Homo sapiens: one gene and its partners. The protein of the gene in region 1 purifies or fractionates together with the protein of each later gene. This does not show direct contact. Each region holds a gene or a part of one and is shown on either strand. Other genes may lie near its edges.

What was found.
Region 2: the proteins of TSPAN3 (region 1) and FGFR2 purify together in Homo sapiens (affinity purification with mass spectrometry; 3 studies listed by BioGRID and IntAct, with this or other methods). This does not show direct contact.
Region 3: the proteins of TSPAN3 (region 1) and CD320 purify together in Homo sapiens (affinity purification with mass spectrometry; 3 studies listed by BioGRID and IntAct, with this or other methods). This does not show direct contact.

What each region holds. Positions count from the first base shown.
Region 1 is NC_000015.10:77,061,110-77,064,758, reverse strand, and holds part of TSPAN3 (tetraspanin-3), read left to right. Parts: intron 1-3,649. UniProt on the Homo sapiens protein: Regulates the proliferation and migration of oligodendrocytes, a process essential for normal myelination and repair.
Region 2 is NC_000010.11:121,497,296-121,500,944, reverse strand, and holds part of FGFR2 (fibroblast growth factor receptor 2 isoform 1 precursor), read left to right. Parts: coding exon 1-119; intron 120-2,339; coding exon 2,340-2,450; intron 2,451-3,649. UniProt on the Homo sapiens protein: Tyrosine-protein kinase that acts as a cell-surface receptor for fibroblast growth factors and plays an essential role in the regulation of cell proliferation, differentiation, migration and apoptosis, and in the regulation of embryonic development.
Region 3 is NC_000019.10:8,301,624-8,305,372, reverse strand, and holds the end of CD320 (CD320 antigen isoform 1 precursor), read left to right. Parts: intron 1-216; coding exon 217-342; intron 343-1,284; coding exon 1,285-1,518; intron 1,519-2,392; coding exon 2,393-2,596; intron 2,597-2,767; coding exon 2,768-2,910; 3' UTR 2,911-3,246; downstream 3,247-3,749. UniProt on the Homo sapiens protein: Receptor for transcobalamin saturated with cobalamin (TCbl). Plays an important role in cobalamin uptake. Plasma membrane protein that is expressed on follicular dendritic cells (FDC) and mediates interaction with germinal center B cells.

The DNA of each region.
Region 1 (3,649 bases):
TTCATGCTTGTTTTCAATTCACTAGAAGAAAATCTAACTTGTCAGGAAGCAAGTACATAATAGGAAGTGTCTGTCTTAGTTTGTCTTCAACAGTTAAGAAAATGAATGTTTCCACTCTTACTACATTCTTAGTCACCTGTCCACTGACCAAGAGCCTTGTGGCCCTGAGTAATCATTTAGAACTTGGAATCAGCAGGGGCGCTCTCTCTAGTTGCAGTTTAGGGAATGGGTTATTAGCTTTCTAGGATATTTATCATGCTTTGAAATAATTTAATGAATTTTATTCCATAAGATCCAATTCAGGTTAGGCTTGTTTGATTTTTTTTTTCAGAAAATGTATTCCATAAAGTTTGTACTTAGACCAGACGGGTGTACTAAGAATCATTCATGAGTAAATGTGTGTTGAATATCTACCCTTGACCTTTTTTTGAGAAATAGAGTAAACACAGTCCCTGTAGTCTGACAGCTAATGGGGAGAGAGGGTAGACTTTTCATCGAATTAAATTTCTACATGCACCTTTCCCCCAGAAATCTTACTCATGGCTGGTCTCAAGTAAGTCTTTATTGAAAAATATTGACATATCTTCTTCCTCTTCCTTCTCCTCACTGTCTTCCTTTTAGTAGTTAGGCAGAGTTAATAGGTAAGAAAAATTATCTGCATTTATGTGTAGTTTGTAATCTACTAAAGGGGTTCTAGAATAAATGTTGACATTTTGTAACTTACATTGTTGTTGCTACTGATTAAACACATAACCCAAGTGTGGATGAACTCTAGCATTACAAAGCTTAAGCACCTCAGGCTCCTATGATGTTGTAATGGACTCTTTTTACAATTAGAGTAGGGTGGGGTAACAGAGGGTCTCAAAGAAAATGCATATTTAAATTTCAGGCTTCTCAGATAACCTCTGGAGCCCTACTGTCTGGAAACAGCCAGTTTCCATGCTGTTACAATAATTTGGCAATGGCAATTGGTTAATCTCCAGTTTCTTTGCCACCTGAAATTTTGAGTTGTTCAGCCAGTAGATATTGGATTAAATAGAACAACTTTGTTAAGCTGGTTTAATAATGATTATGAAAAACCAAATAGAGAAAAGGTGAAAATAAGGCAGAATTGAGGAGCATGACCTTTGGCATATCATCAGAGTAATAGCAGTAAAAAGGATTAAAATATTTCTAATTTAAGAATAATGGCAATAATAATAGTGATGTTGATGGCAAAAGTGGCTTGTCAGAACTTTAAACTCTTAGCCAGGCTTGGTGGCACATGCCTGTAATCCTAGCTACAAGTAAGACTGAGATGAGAGGATCCCCTGAGGGAAGGAGTCTGAGGCCAGCCTGGGCAACATAGCAAGACCCTGTCTTAAAAAAAAAAAATAGAATTTTCTCATTAGTATAGTGGTGAGTTAAAAAAACACACATAAAACTTTACACCCCAATTTAAGTAGGACTTTAAAAAAAACTTGTCTCCTTGAAAAGTAATATTTATGAGAAAAGGAACATAATGTACATTGAAAGAATTGTGTTAGATAATCAGAAAACATGTACAGGATGAGTCAAAGCCACACAGACCTGAGAAAAGTGGTAAGTGGGAGAGATTGGCAGAGGTGCCTAAAATATTTAGGATGGAAGAGGTGTCTGTTTTTGGTTGGTTAAGGACACATCCAGGAATGAATTCATTGGTGAGAGAACATTAAAGCCTCAATTTCAGACATAATTTTAACTATTATTCTAATTATGCAAGTAATATATTTTAAAGAAGACACTAAAAGTATTTTAAAAAGCAAACTGGTATCACCCATAATTCTACCACCCAGAGACAACCAATATCAACATTTTGGTTTGTTTCCAATATGTGATATATGTGTTTTTTCCCCTATCACACCACAAGCATATTATTAAATGATGCTTTAAGAAAATATTTCAGGGCTGAATGCAGACACACCTCTGAATACCAGGGCTTTTTCATTTTCATTTTTGCAGCCACAATTTCATTACAACATCTCGATGAATTACCTTTTACACAAATCTGTGTTTCTGACTAACTTTCTAAAGGATAGATTCCTGGAAGTGGAATAAGTAGGTATAAAGGCATCAATGCTGAGGCAGATATGTATTGCCAGATTGTTTCCAAAAAAATGATTCTCTATTAGTTTGTGCTTCCGCCCATCTGAGGGCCCTTCTCTCTGCACCCTCACACATCTTTGAATACTCCTTAACTTTATTGCTGATCAGTTTGTTAGGTAGAAAATGATAGTATTTAATAGCTTCAGAAATTCTTGGTAAGAGTAGCTTTAATTTCTGAAAGAGGATTTGGAGTCTTTGGAATGGCCTTTTTTCCTTGAGAGTTGGTAGGAGAGTAAATGATATATTCAGGTAGTGGACTTACATAAGAAGTAGTTGTGTTTAGTGACGTAAACTGTTCTATCAGATTAAGTCAGAGGTGAAAGCATGGTTGAATTAGAGAATATACATTATGGCAAGTAGAATGCTAAACGATTTAAGATGATTTTAAGACACTTGTAATGGCATAAGGGTGAAGTTTGGGGAAGCTTTCAGAAATCCACTGTGTGGAATTACCAACGATTCTTCCCAGGAGAGAAAAGAGGTATATGAAAAATAATATGACAGTACAGGAAACTCTGGATTTAATGTTAAAAAGATATATGCATAAGATGGATTCCTGCCTATTTTTTCCCTCTGCTTTTAAAACCTGCTTTCTTACAAAGTCTAGAGTACAGCATTTTTTGCTCAGTCTTTTACTTCTTGACTTTTTTCCTTTCTCTCAACACTCCAGTCACTTCTACTTTACTAATTGATTCTTTGGCAAAAATCACTCCGAAGGGAGCAGTTCACACAGGCAAGCAAGAATTTGTCAGGCACTGTGCTTTTAGGTGAATAAAGTCCAGATGGTGCCTTGTCTTTACATTGTTTTGATTCTTGCCAGTTCTAGATGGGAATCATCATCAATGGCTACTACATACCACTGCAAGAAAATCACTTCTATTCTTTGCTTCAGCTTCGCCCAAAATGTCCTGTGGGATGCTTTCGCCTTTGTATTTCTAAATCTCCATGTAGGTATACTTTTGGCAACAGAGCTACTTTATCTCCCCACTTGTAGCAAATCTGTTTCATTTTTAATATTGCCACATTCCAATGGCAGGTTACACCGTGGTTGATGAAAAGGAATTTAATAGTTTTACAGATTTTAACTTTTTTTTTTTTAATTTTTTGAGACTGAGTTTTGCTCTTGTTGCCCAGGCTGGAGTGCAGTGGCGCAATCTCGGCTCACTGCAACCTCTGCCTTCCAGGTTCAAGCGATTCTCCTGCCTCAGCGTTTCTGAGTAGCTGGGATTACAGGCATGTGCCACCACGCCCGGCTAATTTTGTATTTTTAGTAGAGACGGGGTTTCTGCATGTTGGTCAGGCCGGTCTCGAATTCATGACCTCAGATGATCTGCCGGCCTTGGCCTCCCAAAGTGCTGGGATTACTGGTGTGAGCTACTGCGCCTGGCCCAGATTTTAACATTTTATCTACTTGTCTCTTTCATAGAATATTTGAAAATTACCCCCCCAAAAACTAGTTTCTAAGCTATGGAAAAAGCAATCTCATATAAGAATGAAATCTCTTTAAGATATTTCACATTTGTGC
Region 2 (3,649 bases), on another chromosome or scaffold:
GACACTGGGCAAGCCCCTGGGAGAAGGTTGCTTTGGGCAAGTGGTCATGGCGGAAGCAGTGGGAATTGACAAAGACAAGCCCAAGGAGGCGGTCACCGTGGCCGTGAAGATGTTGAAAGGTGAGCGGGGAGGCGGGAGGCTCGGGGAGGGGCTGGGTGGAGAGTCTTATCAAGAAAGTTCCTTTTGTGGCATGTGAACTCTATCATGGCACGGGGTCAGAGAGCACATAGTTGACCTAGGGGTTGAGAAGTTTTCGGTATAAATCAGCATCTCGGACAGACTATTTATCTTGAGCTGTGTGTACTTATAAAGAAAAGCCAGTTTTGTTAGAAAGCGGTAGCCTCCTACATAGAGTTATTCTTTGACTCCTTCTTCGTGACCACAATTCTTCATTCTCTCTGTATTTTTATGTGCTTAGAAATTATCAACTCACATATAATTGAATTTATTAGCTAGGAGTTGGTGTGTTAGATTTGGGACTTAAACCTTAACTTTACAAGTACAAGAAAATTTGTGTTTTTGGAGGGAACGAAGAGACGTAAGGGAGCAGAAAGCCTTCTCTTTTGCGTGAGGAACAAAGCAGAAATGACACTGGTCTGGGAGAGTCACTTAGAAGCTGAGAAGGAGTGAACAGGATCAGGGCTGGTGCAGAGCCTCCTGGGACACATAAACAATTACCCTGAGATGTAAATGTCGTGTTGTGTTTGTGGGACTGTGAACACTTCTACGTTAACCTTCCAACCCTGCTTCATGCCCATGTCCAAAGAACTTAAAGAACTTTTAACCATTAACTTATTCGTCCTGCAGTATTCTTTTATGAGAAGAGTTATAGGGAACTGTCACATTATAAATCCTCTTGTAGGGATCTCGGAAAGAAGATCCCATGCCGAGTGTTTCCCACGTTTCCAGGCAGAGAGGCCCATCCTTGGGATATGGTGCTGGGCATGTCGCAGGCGCTCTGGAGTTAGGCTTTGTCTTTCTTTTGTGGGTTCTCATGGGATAGTCATCACATCCCTCCCAAGGGGAAGTAGCAGGCTGGACTTTGTCAACAAGATGTGCATTTTGTTTTTTGGGTTTTTTAAAAGGCTGTTTATCTGAGTGACTCCCAAGGAAAACTAGAGTGCTTTGAGATGTTCCCCACCTTGGAGCCTGATGCCGGGGAGGAACACTGTGCTGTCTTGCCCCAGGTGTCATGGCACCACTGACTGAGGCAGCCCCTGGCTGCGTACCAGGGCCAGGTGTGGGGAGGACCCAGGCTTCTCATCTCTTTTGGCGGAACTTCTGGTTTTGCTAATGGAGCTCAGAGTTACATGGGATATTGCAAAAAGGGAGGTCTGGGAGTTCTCTTTCTCTTGTGATGCCCAGGCTGGCAGCCTTCCCTGTAAGGACACAGAAGGATATTAGTCCCCAAGCCATTGTGGCGTGTCCTTTCTTACAGCCCACGGCTGTGTCTCCCTCCCTCCTCATGGCCCGTGGCTCCCTCCTTCACATACATCAGTGTAAATTTTGCACACACAGTCACTTGTATTGATCTTCCTTTTGTGAAGCTAAAAAACTGTTTGCAACATGGTTCTTATCCATGCCCATATTTCATTTTTTTTTTAAAGGAAACCCAGATTTTTCCATACTGAATTAGCTTGAGGTGGAGGGCACATGGGAAAGTCTTGCCACTTAGGAGAATCTAAGAGAAGCTAACTGCGAGCCCGCGTATGTGGAACCTGTGCCATTCTTGCTTGAAATTACAGAGCGGAAGTTTATGTAACTTTTCTTAGGATGGGAACTGCAGTGCCCTCTGAGAAGCCACTAGAAGTCGCAGCCCTTTACCTGCTCAGAATGCACATGCACACACGTTTATGGCCCTGTTTATGGGGAACCGTCTGAACCCACCTCGGAACGCTCTAAGGGCCTCGAGGGGCTGGGTTAAGAATGCTTGGTCGGGAGCAAGTCTGTAGTGATTTGAAATGGCCCTACCCTCGGTCTCCTCGCTGGTTTCAGGCACCATGAAGTTTGGTGTGGTTTTCTGAGACGCCTTAGATATGGCAGAGGATGAGATTATCTCATGGTCTAGGAAAGAATTGGCATTAGTGTCAGAAGCCCCTGCTCTCGTCCTGACTCTTGGCCCCATTGGCCCCCCAGTGAGCTCTTTGACACAGAGTGAGGCAGTTCCCTGTGTAGGCCTTTGTCCCTTCCTCGATAAAATGAGGGAGATGATTTGGAAAATCTTTTCTGATTCTGAAATTCAATTTCATGCTGTTTCAACTAAGTCTTTGGCAACTAACAGTAGCTGCCCATGAGTTAGAGGAAATGAACTGATTTGTGAATATGCCTACTGTTCATAGATGATGCCACAGAGAAAGACCTTTCTGATCTGGTGTCAGAGATGGAGATGATGAAGATGATTGGGAAACACAAGAATATCATAAATCTTCTTGGAGCCTGCACACAGGATGGTGAGTAGGAGGAAAAACTGCATTCGCCCAAATACTCTGCAGTTTGATTGAATCATTTTAGAAATGGCTGGGCTTCCAGATCCTGCTCCCAGAGCACCCTGTGTGCATGTTTAAAGTTCTTTTTAAAATCCCCATTGGAAGATGTTCCTAGCCATGAACACAAAGAAGGGTCTGTGCCCGTACCTGGGGGCCAGTGGAAAGGAGGGTGCAGGTGACTTTGGATTTGAGGGCCTAGAGGGCGCTGCTGTTTCTAGGTCATAACCTGGAGGGGGTTTTGGAAAAGGCAGCCTCCTTATGTTTTTGTTTTGTAAGTGCTAAGAGAGATTTGTCAGAATAAGATCCTATGTTTTGGTTGAGAAGTTCTTCCCTTAAAACAGGGATTGAAGAATCCACATCTTGCTGTGGGTCACAGATGGCTGAGCTCCCAAGAATAGCTTAAAAGAGGAGAAAGCGGTATGAAGGAATACGTTATTTTCCCTGGGGGAGAGAGACCCTGGCTTCTTCCATTGAATGTTTACTGGCACTTTGAAATCAATTTGCTAAGTAATTAGTAAACTTGAAAACGCCTATCTTTGACTTAGCAATTTCTCTTGTAGGTCTATATAGTAATTGGTGAACTTTTTCTGTAAAGGGAGGTCGTAGATATTTTAGACTTTTGTGGGCCGTATGGTCTTTGTCGCAACTTCTCGTGTCTGCCATAGTAGTGAGAAAGCAGTGCTAGAAGTACAGAAATGAATGGACCTGGCTGCATGCCAATAAAATTTAATTACCCAAACAGGCGGTAGGCAGGATTTGGCTTGCAGGCTGTAGTCTGCCAACCCCGAGCCTATACCATGGAGAAATTATTGCACACGTGTGTAAGGGAACATGTACAGAGATGTTCATTGCCTACTGTTTGTTATGGCTGAAACCTGGAAGCAAATGCCTATGCATATAAGGGAATGGATAAATAAAGTGTGGTGTGTTTATACGATACAGTATATGCAGCTGTGAAAAGGAATGATCTGGTTTTGTTTTTATAAGCCCAACAGGTTCCAAAAGGATAATGTATGGGTAAAAAATGTTGCAAAGATCTAAGAGCTTTATTATTCATTTATGTGATTAAAAATAATATATTACTTATTGAATAGTTAAAATGAACCAAAAGGATAGAGTGGAGGGATCCATTGCTTTCCAAGAGGGCGCAGGTGACAGCATGA
Region 3 (3,749 bases), on another chromosome or scaffold:
GTGCAGTAGCACCTGCCCAGTGGGGCTCTTGAGCCCAGGAACTGCTACACTCTGAACCCCACTCGTACTAGGGGCTCAGTAACAAGCAGCCGCCAGTGTGGTTCCTATATCCCGGGACTTCGCCTGTCTCCTGCGGATCACAGCCAGTGACTACTGTGCTCTTGGAGAAAGGTCCAGCCTCCAGCTTCCCAGGCTTCATTTGCATCCATCTCGCAGGCCCCAGCTCAGGCTCGTGCCCACCCACCAAGTTCCAGTGCCGCACCAGTGGCTTATGCGTGCCCCTCACCTGGCGCTGCGACAGGGACTTGGACTGCAGCGATGGCAGCGATGAGGAGGAGTGCAGTGAGTGGCCACGCCCCTTGGCGGGGCTTACAGGGGGCGGGGCCTGAGGGTGGTTTGTCAGGGGCCAGGCACGCGGAGGTGGAGCTTGTGGGAAAGGCAGGGCCGCAGGGATGGGTGCGACTTGGGTCTGTGGGTCATAAGAAGCGGGGTCTAAGATGGGCTTGGGCTGGGCGCAGTGGCTCACGCCTGCAATCCCAGCACTTTGGGAGGCTAGGGTGGGAGGATCGATCACTTGATCCTGGGAGGTTGCCGCTGCAGTGAGCTAGGATTGTGCCAGTGCACTCCAGCCTGGGCAACAGAGTAAGACTGTCTCAGGAAAAAAAAAGAAAAAGAAAAAAAAAAGAAAAATGAAAGAAAGGAAAGAAAGGAAGGAAAGAGAGAGGGAGGGAGCCAGGTACGGTGGCTCACACATGTAATCCCAGCACTTTGGGAGGCCAAGGCAGGCGGATCACTTGAGGTCAGGCGTTCGAGACCAGCCTGGCCAACACAGTGAAACCCCATCTCTACTAAAAATACAAAAGTTAGCTGGATGTGGCGGCAGGCCCCTGTAATCCCAGCTAGTCAGGAGGCTAAGGCAGGAGAATCACTTGACCCTGGGAGGCAGAGGTTTCAGTGAGTCGAGATTGCGCCACTGCACTGCAGCCTGGGCAGCAAAGGGAGACCCCGTCTCAAAAGAAAAAATAAAGAAAGAAACAAACAAACAAATAGAATAAAGTGGGCTTGTAGGAAGGTAGAGCTAGTGGGGTCTCAGGGGAAGAGCTTGCAGGGAGGCCTGTCCTTAGAAAGTGGAGTTAACAGTTGCAGGGGGCGGAGCCTTAGGAAGGGAGCATTTTTTTGGGCTCAGCTGTTCTTAGAGGGTGGGGCTTGCAGGGGATGGGGTTTCAGGGAGTACCTGGGCCTTCTTGGGTGGGCATTTGGGACCTGACCAACCCTGTGCCCCAGGGATTGAGCCATGTACCCAGAAAGGGCAATGCCCACCGCCCCCTGGCCTCCCCTGCCCCTGCACCGGCGTCAGTGACTGCTCTGGGGGAACTGACAAGAAACTGCGCAACTGCAGCCGCCTGGCCTGCCTAGCAGGCGAGCTCCGTTGCACGCTGAGCGATGACTGCATTCCACTCACGTGGCGCTGCGACGGCCACCCAGACTGTCCCGACTCCAGCGACGAGCTCGGCTGTGGTATGCACCTGCGGGGCTGGGGTGGACTCGTGGGTAGATGGGGACACCCACTGCCTGCTGGGGCGTGGCCAGGCTGGGGGCGTGGACACATGCCTTTGCCCGTGCCTGCATCCCTGTGGGGGAATCAAGACATCATTAGGGGCCGGGCCCGGTGGCTCACGCCTGTAATCCCAGCACTTTGGGAGGCTGAGGTGGGCGGATCATCTGAGGTCAGGATTTCGAGACCTGCCTGGCAAACACTGCGAAACCCCGTCTCTACTAAAAGTACAAAAAAATTTGCTGGGCATGGTGGCACACACCTGTAATCCGAGCTACTCAGGAGGCTGAGTCAGGAGAACCGCTTGAACCTGGGAGGCAGAGGTTGCAGTGAGCTGAGATTGGGCCACTGCACACCAGTCTGGGTGACAGCAAAACTCTGTCTCAAAAAAATTTAAAAAAGGCCGGGCACGGTGGCTAACGCCTGTAATCCTAGCACTTTGGGAGGCCGAGGCAGGCAGATCACCTGAGGTGAGGTGTTCGAGACCAGTCTGGCCAACATGGCGAAATCCTGTCTCTACTAAAAATACAAAAGTTAGCTAGGCGTGGTGGCGTGCACCTGTAATCCCAGCTACTCGGGAGGCTAAGACAGGATAATTGTTTGAACTCAGGAGGCAGAGGTTTCACTGAGCCAATATTGCGCCACTGCACTCCAGCCTGGGTGGCAGAGCCAGACTCCCTCTCCAAAAAAAAAAAAAAAAAAAGACATAATTACGGGCAGTCAGCTTCACCCAGCCTGGTTGGTTGAGGATAAACCCCAAGGGCTCCCCTGGGCATCTGGCCCCCTCACGCCTTCAGTGCTCTCTCCTCAACTACTGAACGCCTGGGCTTATTGCAGGAACCAATGAGATCCTCCCGGAAGGGGATGCCACAACCATGGGGCCCCCTGTGACCCTGGAGAGTGTCACCTCTCTCAGGAATGCCACAACCATGGGGCCCCCTGTGACCCTGGAGAGTGTCCCCTCTGTCGGGAATGCCACATCCTCCTCTGCCGGAGACCAGTCTGGAAGCCCAACTGCCTATGGGGTTATTGCAGCTGCTGGTAAGAGGGACTTACCCTCCCATGCTGGGGGCTTAGAGCTCCGGGGATTCAGGGGAGGTGGGTGGGGAGGGATGAGCTGCAGAACTCCCATCCCCATGTGTATGGAGCTTGGTGGGTGTGGGGGCTCTTGCCTTCCCCCTCCTTACTCCTCTGTCCATCTGTTCCCCACAGCGGTGCTCAGTGCAAGCCTGGTCACCGCCACCCTCCTCCTTTTGTCCTGGCTCCGAGCCCAGGAGCGCCTCCGCCCACTGGGGTTACTGGTGGCCATGAAGGAGTCCCTGCTGCTGTCAGAACAGAAGACCTCGCTGCCCTGAGGACAAGCACTTGCCACCACCGTCACTCAGCCCTGGGCGTAGCCGGACAGGAGGAGAGCAGTGATGCGGATGGGTACCCGGGCACACCAGCCCTCAGAGACCTGAGCTCTTCTGGCCACGTGGAACCTCGAACCCGAGCTCCTGCAGAAGTGGCCCTGGAGATTGAGGGTCCCTGGACACTCCCTATGGAGATCCGGGGAGCTAGGATGGGGAACCTGCCACAGCCAGAACTGAGGGGCTGGCCCCAGGCAGCTCCCAGGGGGTAGAACGGCCCTGTGCTTAAGACACTCCTGCTGCCCCGTCTGAGGGTGGCAATTAAAGTTGCTTCACATCCTCCGCCTGCCTCTGGGTCTCTGTCTCCCTTGGCCTGGGCAGCCTGGGGTCGCTGCTGCAGCCCCTCCTCCATGAGAGCCCAGCCCATAGAAGGTGGGACATGGACACCCAGCCCTGTGTGCAGCTACTGTGCTGCTTGCTTTTTGGGAGCAGGGGCAGCAGGGCTGGGGTGGGGAGTCTGCGTTAACATCAGGATTCTTGGAAGAAGAGCAGAGCTTGGGCAGTGCCTTCCCATTCCCAGGTCTGGGGACCCCCACCCACTGTGGCTTCCTCCTCAGTGCAGTGGAAGCCAGGTTTCCTGGGATGGTCTCAGACTCACCCTGTTTTAATTATTTTTTAATTATGTTTTTAGAGACTGCGTTTTGGCCGGGCACAGTGGCTCACACCTGTAATCCCAGCACTTTGGGAGGCCGAGAGGTGGGCGGATCACCTGAGGTCAGGAGTTCGAGACCAGCCTGGCCAATATGGTGAAACCCTGTCTCTACCAAAAATACAAAAAATTGGTT